3 separate regions of the Homo sapiens genome follow, and all the other regions are linked to region 2. The links come from fine-mapping of genetic effects on plasma protein levels. Region 2 holds a variant in brackets. A gene starts in each other region. All regions are shown on their forward strands. Region 1 holds the start of MEP1A (meprin A subunit alpha). Region 2 has its middle 47 kb from the start of SURF6. Region 3 holds the start of CD300LG (CD300 molecule like family member g).

Evidence for each region. PIP is the posterior inclusion probability: the model's chance that the variant is causal. Protein levels are from antibody-based Olink assays in UK Biobank. Linkage for the fine-mapping came from a reference panel and not from the study's own genotypes, which makes the PIPs less certain.
Region 1: MEP1A starts here. The variant in region 2 is fine-mapped to the plasma level of the MEP1A protein (UK Biobank, PIP above 0.99).
Region 3: it holds the start of CD300LG, and the variant in region 2 is fine-mapped to the plasma level of the CD300LG protein (UK Biobank, PIP above 0.99).

Annotation. Positions count from the first base shown.
Region 1 is chr6:46,788,632-46,796,814 of GRCh38, forward strand. It overlaps MEP1A (meprin A subunit alpha), which reads left to right and starts at 4,758. Exons shown (of 14, transcript NM_005588.3): 1 at 4,758-4,836; 2 at 4,921-4,945; 3 at 5,035-5,085. The coding sequence starts at 4,768.
Region 2 is chr9:133,284,951-133,293,103 of GRCh38, forward strand. No RefSeq gene overlaps it. Among named protein-coding and RNA genes, the nearest start is that of SURF6, 47 kb to the right of the region's middle. The variant A/G (reference allele first, on the strand shown) is at 3,048.
Region 3 is chr17:43,842,770-43,850,952 of GRCh38, forward strand. CD300LG (CD300 molecule like family member g) reads left to right here and starts at 4,407. Exons shown (of 7, transcript NM_145273.4): 1 at 4,407-4,490; 2 at 5,789-6,124. The coding sequence starts at 4,448. It overlaps LOC107984979 (a long non-coding RNA gene), which reads left to right. Exons shown (of 3, transcript XR_001753057.2): 3 at 3,495-3,706. LOC107985077 (a long non-coding RNA gene) reads right to left here. Exons shown (of 2, transcript XR_001752896.2): 2 at 6,981-7,532.

The sequences.
Region 1 (8,183 bases), not on the chromosome of region 2:
AGTACCCCTTGCCTCACCAATTGGGATTGGTGTCTGTACACACTCCAAAACACAGTTGCCTGCCCAGGTCAGCAGGTCTCACATTTTCCATATAGAAATAACCCCCAAGCTTGTTAAAAATGCAGGTCCTCAAACCACACTGCAGAGGGGCTGTTTCCTGGAGGCCTTCTGAAATGGACTTCTGTGTTGATGATCTCTCGAATTCTTAACATCTGATGTATTCCCTATTAGGAAACTGAAGGTTCTATGATCTTTTGATTTTCTTATACAAAGGGAATCAGAGGAAAGCTATTCGATAACCACAGTGAGAGTGGAAGCATCTGACTGATGCAAATTCCACAGTGTCCTGTTCATCAAAGTGTGTTCCACAGACTACCTGCATCAGAGTCACAAGGGTGCTTATTAAAAATGCAGATCTCTGGAACTCACCATTTGACGTGAGTCAGGATTTCCAAATTCCAAGCCAAGAAATTTGTACCTCAACAAACCATCCAGAGGATTTTGAAGGAATCTATAGCTTGGGAACTGTTTCCCTCAGGGTTAATTCTTCTTAGTAAACTGTTAGAGATGGAACCCTGTGAAACCAGGGGTCTGCATGCTACAGCATAATGGTGGAGGCCTCACTCCTGGGCTGTCAAAGGCCAGACATAGGTGTAAAGAACTGCCTCTCAGGTGGAATTTAGGAGCATTGTTCAGGATCTGCATGACCTTGAGAAGGTTCCTTAATTTTTCTTCATCTCAGTTTCTTAATATATAAAATGGAGATAATAATAGTTGCTTCTTCGTAGGATTGTTGTGAGGATTGAATGGATAATTACCCTTAGATACTTGGAATACTGCCTGGCCCACAGTAAGTACTATGTACATGTTGGTTGCTGCTACTGCTTCTGTTATAATTATTATCACCGTCTCAATTTCCACCACCTTGAGGGTTATTCTCTAAAACCCAGGGGTCAGCAAACTATGACCCTTTGCTTTGTTTTTGTGAATAAAGTTTTATTGGAACACAGCCATGTTCACACCTTTACATTATTGTCTACAGCTACTTTATGCTACATACAACAGGAGAGTTACATAGCTACAACAGGGCTCATATGGCCCACAATGCTTGACATATATCTCTTTGCCCTTTACAGACAGTTTGCCGACTCTTGCTCTATACACCTTTGGGCCCCTGTTAATATGTTGATTGCCCTGGGAGGAACAAGGACTGTTGTGTTTCAGGTTAGCTGACAGCTGGTTGAAGGCAGAACTCTGTGAGTGAAGCAGAAGGAATCAGCATCTTGCAATAGAGTAGAAAGAGGGCAGAGAACATCCTTGAGAAGGGTTTGGGGTGAGAGGACTTTGCAAGTCTCTTAGCCCAACTCCTTGCCTGAGCTTTTATGAAGCTGGAGAGTGTGTGGAAATAGCTGGGGGCGGGTTTTTCCATTTTCTACCTGTCAATGGCTTTCTTCCTCTAAGCTTCAGACCACTTTCTCAACTGGTCAGTTTATGAAATGCCCTTCCTGAGATCAAAGCAAGTCACCCCATCCGATACCTTCAGAGAAATTTCTATTTACTTTTTTCAGTTAAAATGAGAACTAATTACCTACTATGTTTCCAAACACTGGGGCAAATACAGGAAATAAAGCATGGACCTTGACCACAGAGTGCATAATCTTCTTTAAACTGAAAAGCCATAAACCCTTCAAATGAAGGACTTAAGGCCCCAGCCTTACTCATTTGATACCCTGACACAATGAAGAAGTGACTAGGATTGCAAATAGCTGGTAACTAATTAACATCTGCCATTAAGATTGTGACAATAAAATAATTGGGGGCAAGTTGTGTCTGCTGAAGACCTATGTTCTCATCACTGGAGATTCTACTGAGCAAGGAGTGGGCTGAGCTGTGTTTTTAGTGCCCATGTTTTGCTAGGAGGCAGTTGCTAACTAGCAGGTAGAAGGAGCAGTTTATTGAGTGCTTCCTATGTTTCTAGTAGCTGTGGTTTACATATGTTATCTCATTGAATCTTTACATTGGCCCCATGAAGTAGGCACCACTATCCATTCTACACATAAAAAGCAGGTACTAAAATTACTGTAGCTAGTCAATGGTAGAGGTGGAGTTCCTGCTTATCTGATTCCAAAGCCATTGTTGTAGTATATCATTCAGATAAGTTTAAGAAGGCAGGGAAAGATAAAAACACATCTGGCTGGAAGCAAGAGAAGGTGGAGAGAATTAAACAGCCTCACTATTCCCTGTTTGAAATCCTGATACCTGAGATTTAGTAGAGAGGTGTACCAAAGCAACAGCACTGCCTTTTTCTTTAGAAAATAAAATAACAAACTCCTACTTCCTGGTTTCCAAGATTAACAAATATTCAGTTTTACCAAATATTCAGTTTTACCATAATTGCTTCAGAATTTGAGAAAAATTAAACAACACATTTAAGAAATAAAAGTCTCATATGTTTTCCACACTGATACTTAAAGCCAATTATTCTTACGATGTTGGCCAGTTTTAAAATTTGATTATTGCCCAATTTTTAAATGGTCTAGATTGTAGTTGCTCACTTAAGTCATTGCGGCTGTTGGGCAAATTTGGCTTTTTGTTTTGTTTTGTTTCGTTTAAAAAATAATATTAGTGGTTTGTAATGGTTAGAGACGGTGGAAGATGGCCTTTTATCACCTCACCATCAGTGGCTTAGGTAAAACAAAAATCAGCCATAGAACGCTTCTGCCCATCAGAAGCAGGCCCCCAGTTGACATGCCTCCTATTTTACAGCTCAAGAAGCTCTACTGTTCACCTTCTAAAAGTCTTTTGTGACAGGAAATGCTTTTTTGACAGCAGGACTAGCCCACCTGCCCAGTAGTAAGTCTGAGGTAGAGAGATGCAGGCTCTAGACCTTGAAGATTGCTCTAATGCCAAAGATTCTTATATCTGGTGCAGGCAAGAATAGGTGGGTGTGTGCATATATTTAGTATTGTGCTGGCGCAGATGGAGCCCACTGTGTACATCTCTTCCCAACACTGCATTCAGTGACATGGTGTTGGTAGCTTGAAATTGACCATGGCAATCAACAAACACTACAAATAAAGGCTTGGTTTTGTTTGTTTGCTTGTTTGTTTTTACTTTTTTTAAAAGAGCCGATTATTAAACATTTACCTGTGCATGGCTGAATATATTCCATAATTTATCTTTTCTTTTAGTATAAACACATTTTCCCCATTCTTTACCATAACAAAAAAACTTCAATGAATATGCTATGTGGAATTTTGTGCACATATGTGTGAGTTCCTTTAGCATATAGACCTAGAAGTGAAGTTTCTATCTTATGAACTGTGCACATTTCAACTTCATTAGATAGCATCAAATTGATGTCCTACTAGATTTCCTATTTTCTTACCTTCTTGTTGACACTTGATATTGTCAGTCTTCTTAATTTATGCCAATCTTAGCTTGAGGTGGTATTTTACTGCTATTTGAACCTATAATTTTTCTGATTACTTACGAGGCTAAAAATCTTTTTACATATTTATTGGCCATCTGGGTCTTTTGTGAATTTGCTACTCATATTTTTTGTTCATTTTTTCCTTAGATAATCTCCTGTTCTTTTTATTGATTTGTAGAAATTCTTTACATATCCTGAATACTTATTCTTATTCAATTATATGCAGTATACATATCATCTCTCACCTGTGGCTTGTCTTTTAATCATGTTATGTTTTTGTCATAAAGAAGTTTAAATTTTGATACAGTCAAATGTATTATTCTTTTCCTCTGTAATTTCTATGTTTTTTTCATGTTTAAGCAATCTTTCTTGACCTAAAGGTTAAAAATATGTTCCTATATTTTCTTTTTTGAAGTTTATATTTTCATATTTAAATTTTTAATCTATCTAGAATTTATTTTTGTCAATGGTATCAGGTGTACATTTAATGTATTTCCTCATATGGAAATGCAATTATTCCCACATTATTATGAAAGAGACCCAAGTTTCCCTCTTGCCTTTTTGGTTCCTCTTATACATAAAAGCCCTGCATATGCTTGCATCTATTTGGATATTACCTATTCCAGTCTATAGATTCATTTTATCTTTATTTTTGGAACTATTACACTCTAATTACTGTAACTTTACCAAAGCTCCTGATATTCTTTTGAGGCAATTCTTTTCTCTTTATTCAGCCTTTTCAGAATTTTCTTATCTATTCTTCAATGTTTACTCTTTCATGCGAATTGAACCATTTGTCAGCTTGGCAAGTTCCACTGAAAACCCTGTTAGATTTTTTACTAGAATGACAATGAATTTATAGATTAATATTAAAACAATCTATTAATATTTCATACATATGTACATATAGAGAGAGAGTCAGGTATTTTTATGTCCTTCAATAATTGCTTTATAACATTTCCATAAAATTTGAATTTATATTTTATTAGAATTAAATAATAATAATTTTATAAATTATTTTTATTTTTATTGTTAAGGGGATCGTCTATCCTGTTTTATGATATGAATGGCTATGGCTGCCCTATAGGAATGTTATTAGTTCTTATATGCTCATTTCCGTATTAATTTTTCAAACTTTTCCCCAGTCTTTGGAGCTTAAGCATTTAAGGTAAACTTAGTGTTTGTCCTCGAAAGAGTCAATGATGTTATCTTTGACAACCTTTATTGGCACTACGGTACATATGGAAGGGTCAAAGTTTCTAATACGACCGTCAGGGTAAAGTCTAAACGGTATTTATGACAAGGTGTGTGCTAAAATCAGCTCACTTGCAGCAATGGCTTGGATTAGATCCACTTGCATTCTCTTTTTTACCTTGCTTTTTGCCCACATAGCAGCTGTACCGGTAAGTCGAGTCCTGCTTTTTGGATATTTAGAAATATTAATTCTAGTATACATTATCCATTTTCTGTATATTTATTTTTTTCAGATTAAGTATCTTCCTGAAGAAAATGGTAAGAATTAGTTCAAATGCACAGAGAGTGTTTTTGAACTTTTTTCCTTCGGCAAGACTAATAATAATTTTTTTTCTCACTTTTAACAGTACATGATGCAGATTTTGGTGAACAGAAGGATATTTCAGAAATCAATTTAGGTGAGTTCAATTTTTGTGTTATTAAAGTCTTGAAATTACTTGAAACCCAGTGGTGGGATTACTGAACACTTTCCTTCCTAATACTGTATTGTGATTCTCTGGGGGAGAAATATTTTTTGGTGCTTTGTGAGAAATTGCATTTTCTGAAAGATAAAAATGCGGAAAGAGAAGATAGTTAGACCAGACTTTCTAGGAGAGCTAGGAAGTCCTCAATGGATCTAGAAATATGTAACAAGTTTCTCTTTATAAAAATTTTATTTTTCCAATTTGTATTTGGAGGAAAAGGAAAGCAAATAGATAATTATTCCGATTGTTAAAGAAAAATATAAGAATAAGCCTCTGGTTATATTTAGTGGGGAAACAAAACCCAACCCCTCCACTGGCCCATCATATTCACTAACAACTCCTCGGTTGAGACTTAGGGGTGAGTGTAAAGCAATCTCCACTTAGACATCTCATTTACAAATATATTTCTTGAAGAAATTCATCAGTCTCATCCATTACTGAGAGGAGAGAGAAGCTGAGTCATCATCTCTGTTTTCTCTCTGTTGTCCTGCTTCTGAAATGAGAGAGAAGCCTCTGCATTCCCAGTGTCTTAGGTCAGGATTTGTGGAAGCAGAGCTATTCATGATAATAAGTACCTTCAGTTTACAAAAGCTTTTATATGCAATTGCATATTTATTTGTCCAGTCTTGTCGTGGAGTAAGTGCTGTTTTCATTTTTTTGGGAAGCGACAGGTGGCTTCTCATGGGTAGAGTGACTTGCTCAAGATCATAGGTAGCAGTGATGGGGCTTACTTCCAGATCTTGTAGCCCATACCTTAATAGCTCAGTGCTATCTGAAGGCTACAAAACTAACATACCAATAACTAAGGGTCAATTTTTCTGGCTTTGTCTCACTCACAGAGAAGCCAGTTAGTTGATATTTAATTGGAATAGCTGGAGAATGGCTGCATAGGCAGAGCAGAAATAGTTTAGGAAGGTAAATGGGTGAATGCATAAATGGGTCCCAAGACTTCAGAGCCAGGCACTAAAATATCTCTCTTTAGAGTTAGCCATTGTGTAAACAGTTCAGAGAATCTGCTGTATTTTACAACAGAAATGGGATTAGAATTAGAGTTTTTCTAATCTCATCATTATTTATCTAATAAAAATTAATTATTTACCTCTTTGCCATTTTGTACTCTTTAGGCCCACCACCACCTCTGATCCTTGACCCCAGTGGAGAAATCTCATTACCATGTAAATCTTCTTTTTAGGCCATTTCAACCAAACCACCAGGATTGATTGGGTTAGCCATATGGCCAGATTCTAACACCATAAATTGGGAAAATCATATAGAGAAAATTGCCACCTTTTTACCATCTTCTTTTTGCCTCACAAGGCTGAGTAAACGTTTCTTATCCTCCATCCCAAGACCTGCTCCTCTCAGTCCTTTTCATTTCAGTAAATGTGACTCACTCCTTCTAGATTTTCGGCTCAGAATGTTAGAGTTGCCCCTAACTCTTGCTTTTCTCTCACACCTGACACACAATCTGTCAGCAAATGTTATTCGATCTACTCGATCTACTTTTCTTTTTTCTCTTTTCTTTTCTTTTCTCCTGAGATGGAGTGTTGCTATGTCACCCAGGCTCGAGTGCAGTGGTGCCATCTCGGCTCACTGCAACCTCCGCCTCCTGGGTTCAAGCGAGTCTCCTGCCTCAGCCTCCCGAGTAGCTGGGATTATAGGTGCCCACCACCATGCCAGGCTAGTTTTTCTATTTTTAGTAGAGATGGGGTTTCTCTATGTTGGCTAGGCTGGTCTTGAACTCAAGACCTTGTGATCCGCCCACCTTAGCCTCCCAAAGTGCTGAGATTACAGGCATGAGCCACCACGCCTGGCCTAGATCTACTTTCAAATCATACTACAGTTGAGACTTTTCAGCACTTTTACTGCCCCTACCTTGGTCAGCCACCTCATGTCTGGGCTGGTCCTTTGACAGGCCTCATAACTGTGCTTCCCTTTCTGCCTTTGCTCCCTAAAGACTATTCTGCACAACATAGAGCTCTCCTTTTAATATCCTTCAGATCATGTCATTTCTCTGCTCCAACCATCTAATGACTTCTCCTTCAACATAAAGTAAAGGCCCTAGAGCCTTGATTCCCAAAGTGTGGTCCACAGGCCAAAGTGATCTGTGTCACTCAAGAGCTTTCTCTTAGAAATGCAGCATTTGAGGATCCACCCCAGACCTACAGAATTAGCATCTTCATTTTGACAGACCCAAGTGGTTTCTATGCACATCAGAGTGTGAGTCAATCTGCCCCTGACTACTCTTCCCCTTCCTACTTGAGCTTTCCAGCCACCCTGACTGCACAGCTACTCCTCTAAGGAAGTGATTTTCGATGTGTTGTCCCCAAGCCAGCAGCATCGGCATCACCAGGAAACTTGTTAGGAATGAACATTCTCAGGCCTCACCCCAGACTTAATGGACCAGAAATCCAACGGTGGGGGCTCATCAACGGGTGTTGACCAAGCCTTCCAAGGGACTCTGATGCTCAAGTTTAGGACCACTGCCCTAAGACATCAAGGCTTTCCTGTCACAGGACCTTTCTATCTGGTGTTGCCTCTACCTCCCCTACTCTTCCTTCATTCCCTCACTCTATCATATTTCTGCTAAAATGCCACCTCCTGTGGGAGGCCCTGCCTGACCACTCTTTAATAAAATAGCAAACCTATCTCACCTCAGCACTCTTTCCCACTTTACCTTTCATTTGTTTCTTTTTTATTGTACTTTTCACCATTTGTCACACTTTACAGTTATTTGTTTATTTGTATGTCTCCTTCTTCCCCCAATCAAGAGAGTCATCTCCTTAAGGACTTGTTTTATTCTCTACTGTATCCCAGCATCTAGAAAAATGCTTAAGACACATTAGGCATTTAATAAGTGTATACTACATGAACAAATTGGGTAATGAATAGATTGAGGCTTGCTCTCACTGGATGTACACTTCTTTGGGAGGTTCTCCCTGCCCCCCATGACTCCATCCATTCTGACTGACCACTGGGGCCAAAGTCTGAGTGGGCTTGTTCACTTCACTCTGAAAGAGCTCCCTCAATCC
Region 2 (8,153 bases):
AACTTGGTAGGCAAGTGGTTGAATCTCAGTCTCTCGGGCTTACCGCCCCTCAGTGGGGCCAGGCACGGTGGCTCAGCCCATAATCCAAGCACTCTGGGAGGCTGAGGCGGGCGGATCACGAGGTCAGGAGATCGAGGCCATCCTGGCTAACATGGTGAAGCCCCGTCTCTCCTAAAAATACAAAAAATTAGCCAGGCCTGGTGGCGGGCGCCTGTAGTCCCAGCTACTGGGGAGGCAGAGGCAGGAGAATGGCGTGAGCCTGGGAGGCGGAGCTTGCAGTGAGCCGAGATCACGCCACTGCACTCCAGCCTGGGCGACAGAGTCAGAATCCGTCTCAAAAAAAAAATAAAAGAAAGAAAGAAAGGAAAAAAGAAAAAGAAAGGCTCAGGGGGTAGAGGAGGAGGCCAGATAGGAGAGTTGTGTGGAGCCCAGATAAGGATCATGTTTATATTGACACCTCTGGGCAGTGAGCCTGGCACCTGTAAATGCCTGTAAATCGCCAGGGAGCAGAGGACAGTGCTGGCTGGGAGCCTGTGTCTCAGCCCTGCCCCGTCGAATGATGTGGCCTGTGGCCAGGAATATCACCTCAGTCTTTCAATTTCCTCATCTGCAAAATGGGGATAGCAATGCTGGCCATTCCTTCTCCCAGATCAGTGATGTGGTCCGAAAGTCCTAAACAGTGTCACTAAGTAAGGTGAAGTCTAATAAGTCATAAATCCCAGCCTGCCATAGGGACCTAAGAGCTATTCCCCTTCTCCTTCCCTGTGGAATCTGGGACACAGCAAGGAGCAGGACCAGGTAGCAGCAGGCTTCATGCTCCTTCCCCAGCAGCCTTCAGAGAGGACACCAGGGTTACCCAGGGATGGTTACCTGGTCCCCAGATCACCTTGTTGTGGCAAGTACCAGAATTGGGCACTGGCCAGTGATGGGCTCATAATAGCTCCAGCCAAATGCCCCTCTTTCCTTTGTCCTTACAGGGAAGGTGGGTTACACTTATCCTCCTGGAGCCATAATTCCTTTTTTTTTTTTGGAGACAGATTCTCACTCTGTCACCCAGACTGGAGTGAAGTGGTGCAATCTTGGCTCACTGCAACCTCTGCCTCCCAGGTTCAAGCAATTCTCCTGCCTCAGCCTCTGTAGTAGCTGGGATTACAGGTGTGCACCACCACACCCAGCTAATTTTTTGTATTTTTAGTAGAGACGGGGTTTCACCATGTTGGCCAGGCTGGTCTCAAATGCCTGACCTCAGGTGATCCACCCACCTTGGCCTCCCAAAGTGCTGGGATTACAGGCGTGAGCCACCGCACCCAGCCCGGAGCCATAATTCCGTTAGGCCTTACCCTGCAGTGCCTGGGCACCTGCCCTAGTGCCCTATGTGATTACGAGCATAGGTAACTACTTCTTCTTTCTTCTTCTTCTTCTTTTCTTTTTTTTTGAGACAGGGTCTCAACCTGTCACCCAAGATGGAGTGCAGTGGCATGATCTTGGCTCACTGCAGTCTCAATTGCCTGGGTTCAAGTGATCCTCCCATATCAGCCTCTGCAGTAGCTGGGACCACAGGCGTGCACCACCATGCCTGGATGACTTTTACATTCTTTTGTAGGGATGGGGTTTCACCATGTTGCCCAGGCTGCTCTTGAACTCCTGGGCTCAAGCAGTCTTCCCACCTCAGCTTCCCAAAGTGCTGGGATTACAGGGGTGGGCGACTAGCCAAGCCTAGGTTAACTTCTTATACTGCAAAGTTACAGAGTGTGGCAAGAAAAAAATAAAGCTCTCCATCGAGTTCAGGGATGAGTCATTTCAGGAAATACCATTAGTTTTCAAGACAATGCAATTTATATAATATTGTAATTCCAAGCTCATCAATGTAGTTCAGATATTCTCACAGTCATGGCAGACTAAATCTAACTTAAAAGGAAGCACATGCTATAGAGGTCTCACAAGGACCTCACTAGGACCAGTTCTGATACTGTCCCAGTCTATTGTGTTGCCTTCACAGAATGCTTGAGACTTAGTAATTTATAAACAAAAGATGTTTGGTTCACAGTTCTGCAAGCTGTACGAGAAGCATGGCACCCCCATCTGCAGGGCTTCTGGTTAGGCCTCAGACTGCTTCCACTCAAGGCGGAAGGCAAAAGGGAGCTAGTAAGGAGTGTAATTCCCAGTTTTAAAAGTAAAGATTTGAAAGCATTAGTTTGGAGACTTGTAGCCCACAAAAATTTAGGATTTTGTCCAAACTGCCGAAAAACTCAAGAACAGCGAACAACAGGTATACTATAGCTTTTCTTTTGAAGCATAATTTTTCTCTCTTCAGTCTCCATTTTTATTAAAAACAAATCATGATAGAATGATTTGTTTACAAAATAAACTTTAGTCTTATTATACTTGGCCTGATTATTTGCACAAAGCACACCAAGAATAACTATTTTTCACATAGGCCTTTAAAATTGGCTTTGATGGAACTCTGTTCTGTAAGGAATCTCAAATAAGACTTTTTTAAAGCTAAGCCCAGCCATGGGTTTGTACACTCAAATACCTATGAGTTGGGTAAATTTCTCTCCTCCTGAGGTCCCAAGAAAACTTGGGTCTCCTGAGACTGTTAGAAAGTGACATTCTTTACTTACCACAGGTCAGGAACTTTGAACAGGGACTGTGTAGACAAGGTATAAGGCCAGATTTCCCAAGGGGCTTTTATTAGCTCAATAACTCAACTTTGATTCTCCTTTTTTTTTTTTCTGAGACAGAGTTTCACTCTTGTTCCCCAGGCTAGAGTGCAATGGCACGATCTCAGCTCACTGTGACCTCTATCTCCCGGGTTCAAGTGATTCTCCTGCCTCAGCCTCCAGAGTTGCTGGGATTACAGGCGCCTGTCACCATGCCCAGCTAATTTTTGGAATTTTTTTTCTTTTTAGTAGAGATGGGGTCTCACCATGTTAGCCAGGCTGGCCTCAAACTCCTGACCTCAGGTGATCCGCCTGCCTCAGCCTCCCAAAGTGCTGGGATTACAGGCATGAGCCACCTCGCCCAGCCAACTTTGATTCTTTAAA[A/G]AAAGCATGCCATTCTAGTCAAAGCCTTGATAAAATAACCAGTTTCTCCCATTGTGTCCTGTTACAAAAGAAAACAGATTATCATTGTACTTATGCAAATAACTATACTGCCATATGTTGAGAATATTCACAAATAGTTTCCAAATTCTGGAAAAATCAGGTAGGGAGAAACAAATATACTCCAAATTTTTTCACAGGAGTATATTTTATTCAACTGTTAAAAGCTGTAAGTAGCTTAAAAGAAAAGTTTTCTTGGCTCTGGAAAACAAAAAGGATCAGCAATGTTTTAAGCAAAAAAGTTAATACAAAAGATTACTGGGCTAGGCTCAATGGCTCACACCTGTAATCCCAGTACTTTGGGAGGCCAAAGTGGGTGGATCACCTTAGGCCAGGAGTTCGAGACCAGCCTGGCCAACATGGTGAAACCCCATCTCTACTAAAAATACAAACATTAGATGGGCATGGTGGTGAGTACCTGTAATCCCAGCTACTTGGGAGGCCGAGGCAGGAGAATCACTTCAACCCGAGAGGCAGAGGTTGCAGTGAGCCGAGATGATGTCACAACAGTCCAGCCTGGGAGACAAGAGCGAAACTCCATTTCAAAAGAAAAAAAAAAAAAGATTACTTCAGTTTTCTATTAGTTCAATCAATTCCATTAACTCCTGTTCTGTTTGATATTTATGAACATTTCAGCTCCCCATGAGAGTCCTGGAAGTTATTTCCTCTATTCTAATGTCACATTCTCCAAAGTTATTGGAAACCTGAATTCAAGAGCACCTGTCAAAGTTCTAGAGCTGATTATAAACCACCTTTTGAAGAGCATCAAACAAGACAACAATTGTCTGTGGATGACAACAATTGTCTGTGGATGACAACAAATCTTAGGACGGCCATTATTAAAGCCACAGTTGACTAGGAATTTGGTTACTTCTGTGGCATACAACAATTTTACATACAAATTATAACTATTATATTAACAGCATACATTCAATCATATCAGAATTATAGGAGTTTCTCATAATTTTGGAACACATACTAATAACATATTTATACAAATACAGCCCAAAGAAAGCCAAACAACATTTTATATTTGACAATGCTTCCTGTATGATTTTTATACCACGTAAGCCAGATGTCATTTTTGGACATTAGAGGACCTAATATCTAAAAGATTAGGTTAGAAAGAGACATAATTATAATCAAATTATAATTTATAATTTGATTTTGGAAAGTTTGTCAAATATCAAAGATTTATTTTGTGGATATCACAAAATAGAATCCCAGGTCACCATAAGTCATTCATTTGACCAAAATGATAACTCCAAAATTTTAAAAAGAAAAACCCTTTACTCTGATAGAGGAGACATAGCTTTCCAAACAAGAAGACCCAATGAAGATAGCATGAGGCCAACTGAATCGTATCTTCTCTCTCCTCCCCTTTTTCCCTGTAGTTTACCCAAAGGGGCAAACAAAACCCTTTCATTTTCTTTTACTATAAAAAATCTTTTACATAATCTTTTATGTAAAAAATCTTTTACATAAAAATCTTTTTCAAAAGAGAAAACCAAATTTAATGTTTGTATTAGTGCATTTTTAATGCTAAGGCTGGTTTTACAATAAAAATTTACAAATGTATTCAGTCTTAATTAGTCTGACCATAAGGTAAGATTTTCATAAACTTTTTTGAACACTTTATAATTTTTCATTAAACAGTCGATCAGTTTTCTAAGAAAACCCTGTTATTTGGACACCTGGGCTCAGATTCTGGCCCTGTATTCGTGTGCTTTTATTTTAATGTTCAACCTACAGAAAAAAAAATTAAATAATCCCCTTCCAATATTAGCCAACTTGCTCATACCCACAGAACTTTTTTTTACAAGACCAACCCTTCATAAGCCCTTTTCACTTTGTTTAAACCTCCAGTTTTGTCCCATTACTCTTTTAGGTTAAGATAATCTTTAAACCCTCTGAACTAGACAAAATTATATTCCTTTTTTGTTTTGTTTTGTTTTTGATATGGAGTCTTGCTCTGTCACCAGGCTGGAGTGCAGTGGTGCAATCTTGGCTCACTGCAACTTCCATATCCCAGATTCAAGCAATTCTCCTGCCTTAGCCTCCTGAGTAGCTGGGACTACAGGCATGTGCCATCGCATCCAGCTAATTTTTGTATTTTTAGTAGAGACAGGGTTTCACCATTTGGCCAGGATGGTCTCGATCTCTTGACCTTGTGATCCACCTGCCTCAGCCTCCCAAAGTGCTGGGATTACAAGCGTGAGCCACCGCGTCTGGCAACATTCCCTTTAATAAAAGCCATATTCCCATGCCTTCCTATAATCTTTTACTTTCCTTACACACCTTACATGTAGAACTGTTTCTCCAGTGGTCTCAATTACATGTTACAATGTTACCTCTTAGCAGCTTTTATTTTTGGTGAAAACCTGATAAGTGATTTTAATTATGTACTAGGTGTGGAGTCTAGGACATCAGACAGAAGTGAAGATAAGGCCTAACTCTTTCCAAAGTAGGCAAATTAAACAATTTTCAAAAGTCAAAGAAACAGCTTACAACCTTAAAACATTTAGTAAATCTGATATCTGACGTTAATTTAGACCAAATGTCTACATTTTGAAGACATTTTTGTTTTTATCAATAATTTCTAAAACTGTCTTTATTTCCAAAAGATTATTAAAGTCACGTGTACAAAAGGCATTAAAGTTTCTCTTTTTCTGACAAAATATTTGATTTCGGCATCTATTTTTAAGCCAATTAAACAGAGTTCTTTTTGTGTAAATATTACACACACAACACATATGAATACAGACAGATAGAAGATTCAGCACTTGTAAGATTTTTTATTTACCAGTTTCTTAATTGGATTACTGGCTTCAGGGTGGAGGAACAGGGCCAGGAAACCATGCAGTTTCTGGGGCCTAATAAGGAGGCACAGCTGGAAAGGAGAGACAGATCCCCCAAATTAGGGTGCCATTCTATATGTATCCTGGATCCCTAAAAAGGAAAGAAATACTACAGGAGAAGACAGTGCAGTGCTTCCACCACACATGTCATCGCAAGGAAAACCAAAGCCAATCAGCCCATTTTGTAACCAGCCAATCCCCCATGGGAGTCTCATCTCTCAGTGGGGGTTGGGGATGTTTCCGTATCTTCCAGGTGGCCAAGAGCATGTTTCTCTGATCCAAGCTTGCAAAGAGCTAAGTATGTCTTCATAACTGACATTAGCCAATTCTTAAAGTATATTTTTTACCTAGTTATTATATATCAAGCCCTCCTATAATTCAAAGTAATTTTTGATACCCCCAAGACTCAAAACCGTTAGATAGCACAATGCAAAACAGAACAGACTTAGATTTTGAGGGGGACCTATCTGCTTTTAATTCCTGGGGTTTCATGAGGAAAACAGGGTTTTTTCCCAAAATGGGGTCTATAGCACCTCCTCTGTTTTTCCCAAGGAATCTCAGGCTACCAGAAGTTATCTTAGGGCCTCTCATGTGTGCATTAATAGTGGTAAGACAAAATGGAGAAAAATAATTCAGTCGACTAAAAGAAAAAAAAAACCTTTTTCCAGCAAAACAAGATCCATGAAAAGAAAAGCATAAAGACCTTTTAAATATACCTACAGCTTGCTTATGCACTTTTAATTAAGTTGACTTTTAACCATAGTGGTCTTTAAAAAAATCCTTTCACATCTCTGATTACCTGACTTTATCCATGCAGTCAATATTTCTGGCTTTTGAACTTTACCAAAAGTAACCAACCTCCCAGGTGCTTCAAAGGCATGGTAAGCAGTTTCTTTTTTACTAGATTTAGAATCTCCCTAAGGTAGTTCAGAGAAAGAAAAATTCAAGAGAAGAAATCAGAAGCTATCCATAAAAACCTCAAATGGCAAAGTTACACACATAACAAACCAGAAAGGAATCATTCCAGAAGCCAAGAATTGAACCCAGGCCACCACTGTCAAAAGATAAACCCTTAGTTACTGAACTATACAGCATTGAGCAGTTTCTATTGCTTTTCCCAAAAGGAGCCTAGAGAGGCCAATTTTGAGTTTGAGAAGGCTTTTAACTGCTCAAGATAATTCTTAGGGCTGTGACATGAACCTCAAAATTCCTGTCCTCTGGATGGCAGAAACCAAGATAAAGTATCCCCACAAGGTTAAGCTCTTAAGGACACAAAACAAGACCGATCTTACCGAGTATTGTTTTCAGGGACCCGTAGCATAGTTTGTAATTGACCAGTCTGCTGGGTTGGCTTGAAAAATGGGCTTATAGGGATCCTAAACCCACATTGTATCCTGTGATACTCCTTTCTCCATTACAGAATATAGAAAGACAAACTTTTAGTACAAAGTACACCAGATTTGCTACAGCCTAAGACCAGTCTCACAAATCCATTTTTCTATTAATCAAACTCTTGCAGAGGAGACAAATATAGTGACATTTACCATTTATGCAGACAGAGAAAGAGAGACCAGAAACTTGGCTGGTAAGAATTTCTTATCCTTTTTTGGCATACCAGATTTATGGGTTCCCTTTCTCTGCAGCTTCCAGAAGAATGGAGCACCTTCTGATGACCCTGCTCGCTGTGCCATAGCTGTGGGATTCAAGCCACTTTACAAAAGAAAATCACCCTTTTCTGTTTTATGGAACCATAGGCAAAAGATAATCAATTTGCAAGATGTTGCCCAATGGGCTGCATTGGGGAACTGAATGAACATTTTCCATCCCAGCAAAATACACAAAACAAAACAGACACTAGTCACCCCATTCAGCACCCAATATCAACCTAGCAAAGCTCAAACTTTCTCCAGACGGTCCCTGTTGTCTTTGATCCATTCCAGCTGGGGAGGGATGACCTCCAAATGATAATTCACAGTGGGGTCTCTGGGCAAGGCAAAGAGCCAATAGTCACCCCGAGAAAGGCCTATCGAGCTTTCTTCAGGGCTCACCAAATGTGACCAGACAAATAAGGAGGATTCTCCAAGTTAGGCCTGCTGGACTTCCATCAGCAATTTCTTCTGAGATCCCCTCCACATATACAAACACACACAAAGACACGACAGACAGAAGGCCTTCCAAATCAGATCCCCAA
Region 3 (8,183 bases), not on the chromosome of region 2:
CTCTCTCCACGCCTCTCCACGCCTCTCTCCACGCCTCTCCACGCCTCTCTCCACGCCTCTCCACGCCTCTCTCTACACCTCTCCACGCCTTTCTCCATGCCTCTGCTGATTTGATTGATGAATGTTGAAGGAGGAACAAGGCGTGTGTAACCCGGCTCTCTTCTTCCTTTTCTCTGGTGAGCTGGCCCACCTGCAAAAAGTGTGTGTTCTAAACTGATACACCACACCTCACCCTGAGTATTACGAGGATGGCCCAGCTCCACTGAGGAAAGAAGGACGCAGTTTTACCTGATTCTGGGGTTCAGCATTAGGTTCTGCCCACTGTCCTGTTTCCAAAACCGTGTTACTATGCCTGCATCAAGCTTATCCACCCGCGGCCCACGGGCTGCATGCAGCCAGGATGGCTTTAAATGAAGCCCCAAACAAACTCGTAAGCTTTCTTAAAACATTATGAGATTATTTTTTTAACTCATCAGCTATCACTGGTGTTACTGTATTTTATGTGTGGTCCAAGACAATTCTTCTTCTTGGCCCAGGGAAGCCAAAAGATGGAACACCCTGACCTACATAAACAATAAACATAACTTACACAAAAGTGCACTTATTTGTTCCACAGTTATTCATCATCTAAGACAGCAGTTCTCAACCCAGGGTATTTTTGCCTCTCAGTGGGATGTTTGACAATGCCTGGAGGCTTTTTTTTTTTTTTTTTTTTTGAGACAGAGTCTTGCTCTGTCACCCAGGCTGGAGTGCAGTGGCGTGATCTCAGCTGACTGCAAGCTCCACCTCCCGGGTTCACGCCATTCTCCTGCCTCAGCCTCCCGAGTAGCTGGGACTACAGGTGCCCGCCACCATGCCCAGCTAATTTTTTTGTATTTTATTTTTTTAGAGACGGGGTTTCACCGTGTTAGCCAGGATGGTCTCGATCTCCTGACCTTGTGATCCGCCCACCCCGGCCTCCCAAAGTGCTGGGATTACAGGCGTGAGCCACTGCGCCCGGCCTTTTTTTTTTTTTTTTTTTTTTTGAGACAAGGTCTCACTCCCATCACCCAGGCTGGCGTGCAGTGATGGGATCTCGACTCACTACAGCCTCGACCTCCCATGCTCAGGTGATTCTGTCACCTCAGCCTGTGTGTAGCTGGGACCACAGGTGCACACTGCCATGCTTGGCTAATTTTCTGTATTTTTTGCAGAGACGGGGTTTTGTCATGTTGCCCAGGCTGGTCTCAAACTCCTGGGCTCAAGTGATCCACTCACCTTGGCCTCCCAAAGTGCTGGGATTATAAGCATGAGCCACCTCACCCAGCCTGGAGACATTTTTGATTATCACAACTGGGAAGGGACTACTGGCATCTAGGGGGTACAGCTGGAGATGCTGCTAAACATCCTATAATTCACAGGACAGTCTCCCACAACAAAGAATTATCTAACTTAAAATGTCAACAGTACTGAGGTTGGGGAAACCTTGATCTAAGAGGAGCAAGTGACCCTCTTGGAGCAGCTGAAGTGATTTAGTCCAAGTCCAAACCGAGAGGAATTGGACCAGGGTGGCCATCGAAGACCAAGCAGCTCAGTCCCCTCATCCCTGCCACTGTACCTCTTGGGCACACAGAGGCCTTCCTGAGGATGTGATGAGGCTGTCACGAGCCCAGTGACCTGTCCAGGAGCCCTTGTGCCTCATTGCCTCTCCCAGGTGCAGTGATGGTGGGGCACCTCCCCATGCTTCTGGTGGGAAGCAGGACAAAAATATCCTCTCTTCTCAGATCCCCAGCCCACCACGGAGGTCTGTCTGTTGGCCCCATCTACCCCAGAGTGTGGCCTAAGGTGGAACTAGGTGCGAGGCTCATGCCAGCACCTCACTTTCACCCTTCTCCCCAGCCCTTGCTCCACTTCCCAGTCTGGTGAATCTGTTTCTAATGGAGTTCTTGAGCCAGCCTCCTGGGCTAGGTGTGGGGCTGGGAAATGGAGGGGAAGGACCTTCAAATATGCAGGAAGAGGGTAGGGATCCACTCAACATGCTCTTTATATAAATAAACATTTAATAACACCTCGCTTACTCTCCTAAAATGACAATCATAAATAATATGCCTTCACAAGCACTTACTTCTTTAAAATCACACTATAGTGCCTGAGCTATACTAGGGAGAAAAAATAAAAGGAAAGCAATTTATAACCAAATAACACATATTTCAATCTGTCAGTGCTCAGGTCCCATGACACTAGAAAGCATAATGAAGTGTCAGATGCTCGTCCTTGCATATAATAAATAAGTCTGAATTTAAGAAATGTAGAGGATCAGAAATTATTCTGTGTAAGGACAAAAATAAATAAATAGAAGAGCAAAGATATGCTATCAAATGCTAGAATAAGTATTACTTTAAGGCCGGGCATGGTGGCTCGTGCCTGTAATCCCAGCACTTTGGGAGGCCGACGTGGGAGGATCGCATGAAGCCAGGAGTTTGAGAAAAGCCTGACAACATAACAAGACCCTGTCTCTACTAAAAATAAAAAATTAGCCAGGCAACAGTGGTGCACGCCTGTAGTGCCAGCTACTTGGGAGGCTGAGGTGGGAGGATCACTTCAGCCTGGGAGTTTGAGGCTGCAGTGAGCTGTGATGGCGCCACTGCACTCCAGTTTGGGCAACAAGAGTGAGACCTGTCTCAAAAATAAGTAAATAAACAAATACTTTTTTTTCTTTTTTTAGATAGAATTTCACTCTTGTTGCCTAGGCTGGAGTGCAATGGTGTGATCTCAGCTCACCACAACCTCCACCTTCTGGGTTCAAGCGATTCTCCTGCCTCAGCCTCCCTGAGTAGCTGGGATTACAGGCATACACCACCATGCCTGGCTAATTTTATATTTTTAGTAGAGACTGGGTTTCTCCATGTTGGTCAGGCTGGTCTCAAACTCCCGACTTCAGGTGATCCACCCGCCTCAGCCTCCCAAAGTGCTGGGATGACAGGCGTGAGCCACCATGCTGGGCCATAAATATTTTTTAATCTGTGTTTTTTTAAAACTGCAAAAACAGATCACCTTTTGTAGTCTGTACATGTAAAAGAGAGTCAGGGGCTGAGATCATGGTAACAGTTTTCCCCACCGTGAACAGCTGGCCCTGCCCACTAAATGGCAGCAGTGCTTCGCAGTCATTGTGAAATTAAAACACTTCTCCCCACGTTACTAGACTCACACACACACAATCTTCCCTCCCAGAACCACTGAGTTAATGCTTCAGATATTAACCTGACAAGTCAGTAAAATTCCAACTGAACATTTGGAAGGATATATGCCAAAATATTAATGGTGCTTTTCTAAAGCAGAAGGGGAATTACAAGAAGCACTCCCTTTTTTCTTTCTTTCCTTTTTACGTTCTGTATTGTGTAAAATTTTGCTTACAACCTGTATGAACTTTGCAACCAAACCAAAAAAAAAGTCATTTTTGAAGCCAGTGTGTCAGAGCTCCCAGTAGTGTACATGTTTGTTTTGGTCCTTTCAAGGAGGATTCAAGTCTGCGATGGAGAAACCACCAATTCACTTTTTCAAATGCCAAAACAACTCCGCAGGCGTGGAGGAGACCTATCTTGCAGCGCTGTAGGCCCAAGGCACCAGGGAATCCGGTCCAGCTCAGCCCTACAGCTTTGCTCAGCCCCGTCTGCACCGCCGCCCCGTGGCCAAGGGCAGTACTGCGTCCTCCAAAAGGCAAGGGCGGAGGAGGGGCCAGGGGCCTTGCCCCAGGGGCAAGCTTCTTTCTGTCCCACTGACCACATGGCAGTCTGGTGAAGTTTATGGACCCCTCTCTCAGTATAATGGCGGGTAAATATATAAATAAAATATATATGCTGGAAAGAAAACTAATACTGGTGAGATGATTCTTAAAACTCTTTATAAATGTGTAATATAATAATAGCCGTTTCATTATTGTAAATAACCAGCTCTAGGGGCAGGTCTAGGAACTCATTGTTTTCCAAGCAGTGAGGGGTATACACGACGTTTCGAGATATCCACAACTTGATGTGCCAGTGTCTGTGATTGTAATTGGTAACAAAGTTGCAGGTACTGCTAACAGTACACTCTGAATAAGAGGAAAAGCTAAATATTAGAAGTTGATGAAAGTCAATATGTAACTTTTTCCCATGCGAATTCGACTTACAGACCCCTTAGGGCGCACGGACCACAGGTTAAGGCCCCCTTGAAGGGGCACGAGTTTAGGAGAAACTCTGGTGTGGGTTTTCAGTCCTGGAAGGTGAGCCCTGGGGTAGGCACGCGTGGGCGCTCAGAAAAGGGAAGGCAGAGGCGCCTCCCCGGCTGGGCCTGCGGAGGGATGACCCACACGCCCCTCCCCTCGCTTCCTTGGCCTGGTTTCACGCGACTAGAGAAAGTTAAAGACCCGTGTGACTGAAGAGGAGCTCACAGTTCCCAGCGTCTGCTCCCACGGTGTCCAGCGCCCAGAATGCGGCTTCTGGTCCTGCTATGGGGTTGCCTGCTGCTCCCAGGTGAGATGGGGAGAGGGTCTCGGGAGGGATGTGGGGCTCACCCTTGTGGTCTGCAGGGAAAGGACCTCTTGACTGACTGATAGCCCCACCCCACCTATCCTCAGCCTCCTCAGCCCTAGGGGAGCGGGGCGGGCTGGGGGTGGGGGGAGGTGGGGGTGGCGCCGGGGCCGCACTTGCTGTTTCTGGAACCTAGAGCCAGGTTTTCTCCAGACCTGTGGGTTTCCCCTCATGGCAATGTGGCTGTGAGAGTTGCTTTGCCTCTCTAATCTTAATTTTTCTACCCTGTGCCAAGCCTGGAGGCGGACAAGACACCCCATCTGGTTGCCCTGTTAAACTCAGCAAATATTTGTTGAATTTCGGCTATGCCTCTCCCCACAACCCTGAAAGATGAAGAATTATCACGTTTCATCAATTCTTTTGCTTTCTTTTTCTTTACCTTCTAACACTTAAAATCAGGATAAATCCTACAACTGATGTCAGTTGTTCAGTTGGCAATAGTGAGACCCCATCTCTACAAACAAACAAACAAACAAACAAACAAAATTAGCCAGGCATGGTGGTGCACACTTGTAGTCCTAGCTAGTGGGAGGCTAAGGTGGGAGGATCGCTTGAGCCCCAGAGGTCAAGGCTACAGTGAGCCATGAGCACCATTGCCCTCCAGCCTGGGCAACAGAGTGAGATCCTGTCTAAAAACAAAACAAAACCAGGCACGGTGGCTCACGCCTGTAATCCAAGCTCTTTGGGAGGCTGAGGCGGACGGATCACAAGGTCAGGAGATCAAGACCATCCTGGCTAACACGGTGAAACCCCGTCTCTACTAAAAATACAAAAAATTAGCCGGGCATGGCAGCACGTGGCTGTAGTCCCAGGTACTCAGGAGGCTGAGGCAGGAGAATCACCTGAACCCGGGAGGCAGAAGTTTCAGTGAGCAGACATCGGGCCACTGCACTCCAGCCTGGGCGGCAAAGTGAGACTCCATCTCAAAAACAAACAAACAAACAAACAAAACAAAACAAAACACTCAGAAACCCTGCTGGCTATCTGGCTGTCAGATTCTATCTGAATCTAGAACGCCACCCCTGCACCCCAATTCCTCAATGGGCCAGGGTTAGGGAAACAGCAACAGCCCTGCCCCAAGTTCCCCCAGCGTGGGAGGTTAGTAATGGCTCTTCCAAGGCTGTCCCCAGAAGGGATGACTGAGAAAAGCCTTCCTTCTTCCTCCTAAAATGGAAGCTCTGGCCTTGACCTTGGTACATGGAGCCTGGTTTTTCCAACCTCCACTCCTGCTCTGATTTTAGGTTATGAAGCCCTGGAGGGCCCAGAGGAAATCAGCGGGTTCGAAGGGGACACTGTGTCCCTGCAGTGCACCTACAGGGAAGAGCTGAGGGACCACCGGAAGTACTGGTGCAGGAAGGGTGGGATCCTCTTCTCTCGCTGCTCTGGCACCATCTATGCAGAAGAAGAAGGCCAGGAGACAATGAAGGGCAGGGTGTCCATCCGTGACAGCCGCCAGGAGCTCTCGCTCATTGTGACCCTGTGGAACCTCACCCTGCAAGACGCTGGGGAGTACTGGTGTGGGGTCGAAAAACGGGGCCCCGATGAGTCTTTACTGATCTCTCTGTTCGTCTTTCCAGGTAACAGATATCTCTCCTTCCCCAGGCTGGGGACAGGAGCTGCAGAGGGAAGAGGGAGGGGTGGTGGGGCATAATCCTGGTACCAACATTATGGGCACTGAGTCCTCAGGGAGATCATGCAGGTCAAGCACCGAGCAAGGCTTGGGGCACAGAAGGAGCCGCCTGAGTCTTGGCCATTGTCTCACTCTTGCTGCCCGAGGTCACACCAGTAGTAGATGTCAGAGCAGGACCGGACCCAGATCTGTCCAGGGCTGGGCTCGGCGCCTTTCCTTTCTGCCCAGGTGTGCTGGAGGGAGATTTCCATAGGCTGGGTACAAGATAGACATATCAGGGGATAAAGAAGACTCCTCGCCTGGTGTCAGAGATATTCCTGAGGCCTCCCGAGGCTGGGCCAACCATTGCTGCATTCCAGACCCAGCCCACAGCATCACCCTGGACATGCTGGCCTCGCCCTGCTTGTGCCCTCAACTCTCCCCTCCTGGCCTCCACCTCCCCAGATATTGAAGTCCAGCCACAGGTGCTAGAGTGCCTGGGAACCAGCCTCTGGGTAGGATGCCTGAAGGAGGGATCGTTAAATGCAGGGACACTAGGGGGCCGGGGCTGGAGCTATGGGGCCTGGGTAGGGGATAAAGCACCTCTCTGGGAGCCCAGAACCCCAAGTGGACCTGCTGAGCTAAGGAGAAAGAAGCCAGAGAGGGCCCAGGGGAGTGGGAGCCTTGGTCTGCTGGCCAGTGTGGGCGAGGTACATCTTTGTATCCCCATTTCACGGATGAGGGACTGAGGCTCCAAGAGACTAAGTGATTTGCCCAAGATCTCACAGCAGGAAGTGATGGAACTGGGATTCAAACACAAGTCGTTTCCAGCTTTGATGTCTGCTTTATTCCTCTCCTAGCCCCATAGCTGGGACCTATCCCAATCCCAGGCCCATCCCTACCACCATAGCCCCTATTTTTTTTTTATTCCTTTATCCATGGATCTTTAATTTGAGGAAATAAAGTTAAACTTGCCAAATAGCAGCAGCATCGAACCACATTGAATCTGTTCTTCATTATTTACAAGATTCTCTTATCTCTTCCAATTCTTATCAGTGTTCACATGTCATTTCTACCAGTTATGATCAAGTTCGCTTGTGTTTTAGGTTTACCCTCATTTGTAATTCTTTATTTGTGTATGACATGTGTATTGCTATATTATCGTCCTATATCGGACTCTATTGGCCTCTCTCTGATGGCAGTTGGGATGTTGAAAATGAAGAAGACTGACGACAGTGATGTGCTGGTAAATGTTTAACAGGCTGGGGATGCTGTCATTTTGTGGTGTTTTCCAATTTCTGTGGTGTCCATTTCTGTGGTCCAATTCCCATGGCCAATTTCCAGCCATCGACAGTTTAACACGATCTCACCAACTCCTGAAAAGTTAACAGTGAGCTCTTGTGAGTCAGTGCGAGCCATCTCCAGCACACCATTGAGTATGGTGAACCATGAGAAGAATTTCTAAGAAAGTCAGAAAAAGACAAATGTAGCCACTATCATTTCTTTTCTTTTTATTTATTTATTTTTATTCATTCATTCATTCATTCATTCATTCATTTTTCTGAGATGGGGTCTCACTCTGTCATCCAGACGGGAGTGCAGTGACACAATCTTGGCTCATTACAACCTCTGCCTCCCAGGCTCAAGTAATCCTCCTACCTCAGCCTCCAGAGTAGCTGGGACCACAGGCACAAGTCACTATGCCTGGCTACATTTTGGTTTTTTGTTTTTTTTTTAAGATGTGGTTTCGCCATATTGGCCTGTCTGGTCTCAAACTTCTGGACTCAAGCCATCTGCCTGCCTCAGCCTCTCAAAGTGCTGAGATTACTGGCAGAAGCCACTGTGCCCAGCCAGCCTACTATCATTTTCTTTTATTCATCTTTGCCTGAAGGCCCTAGGCAATGAAATATGCAAGATTAAGAAGTATAAGTCCCGGCATGGTGGCTCACGCCTGTAATCCCAGCACTTTGGGAGGTCAAGGCGGGTGGATCACGAGGTCAGGAGTTCAAGACCAGCCTGGCCAAAAT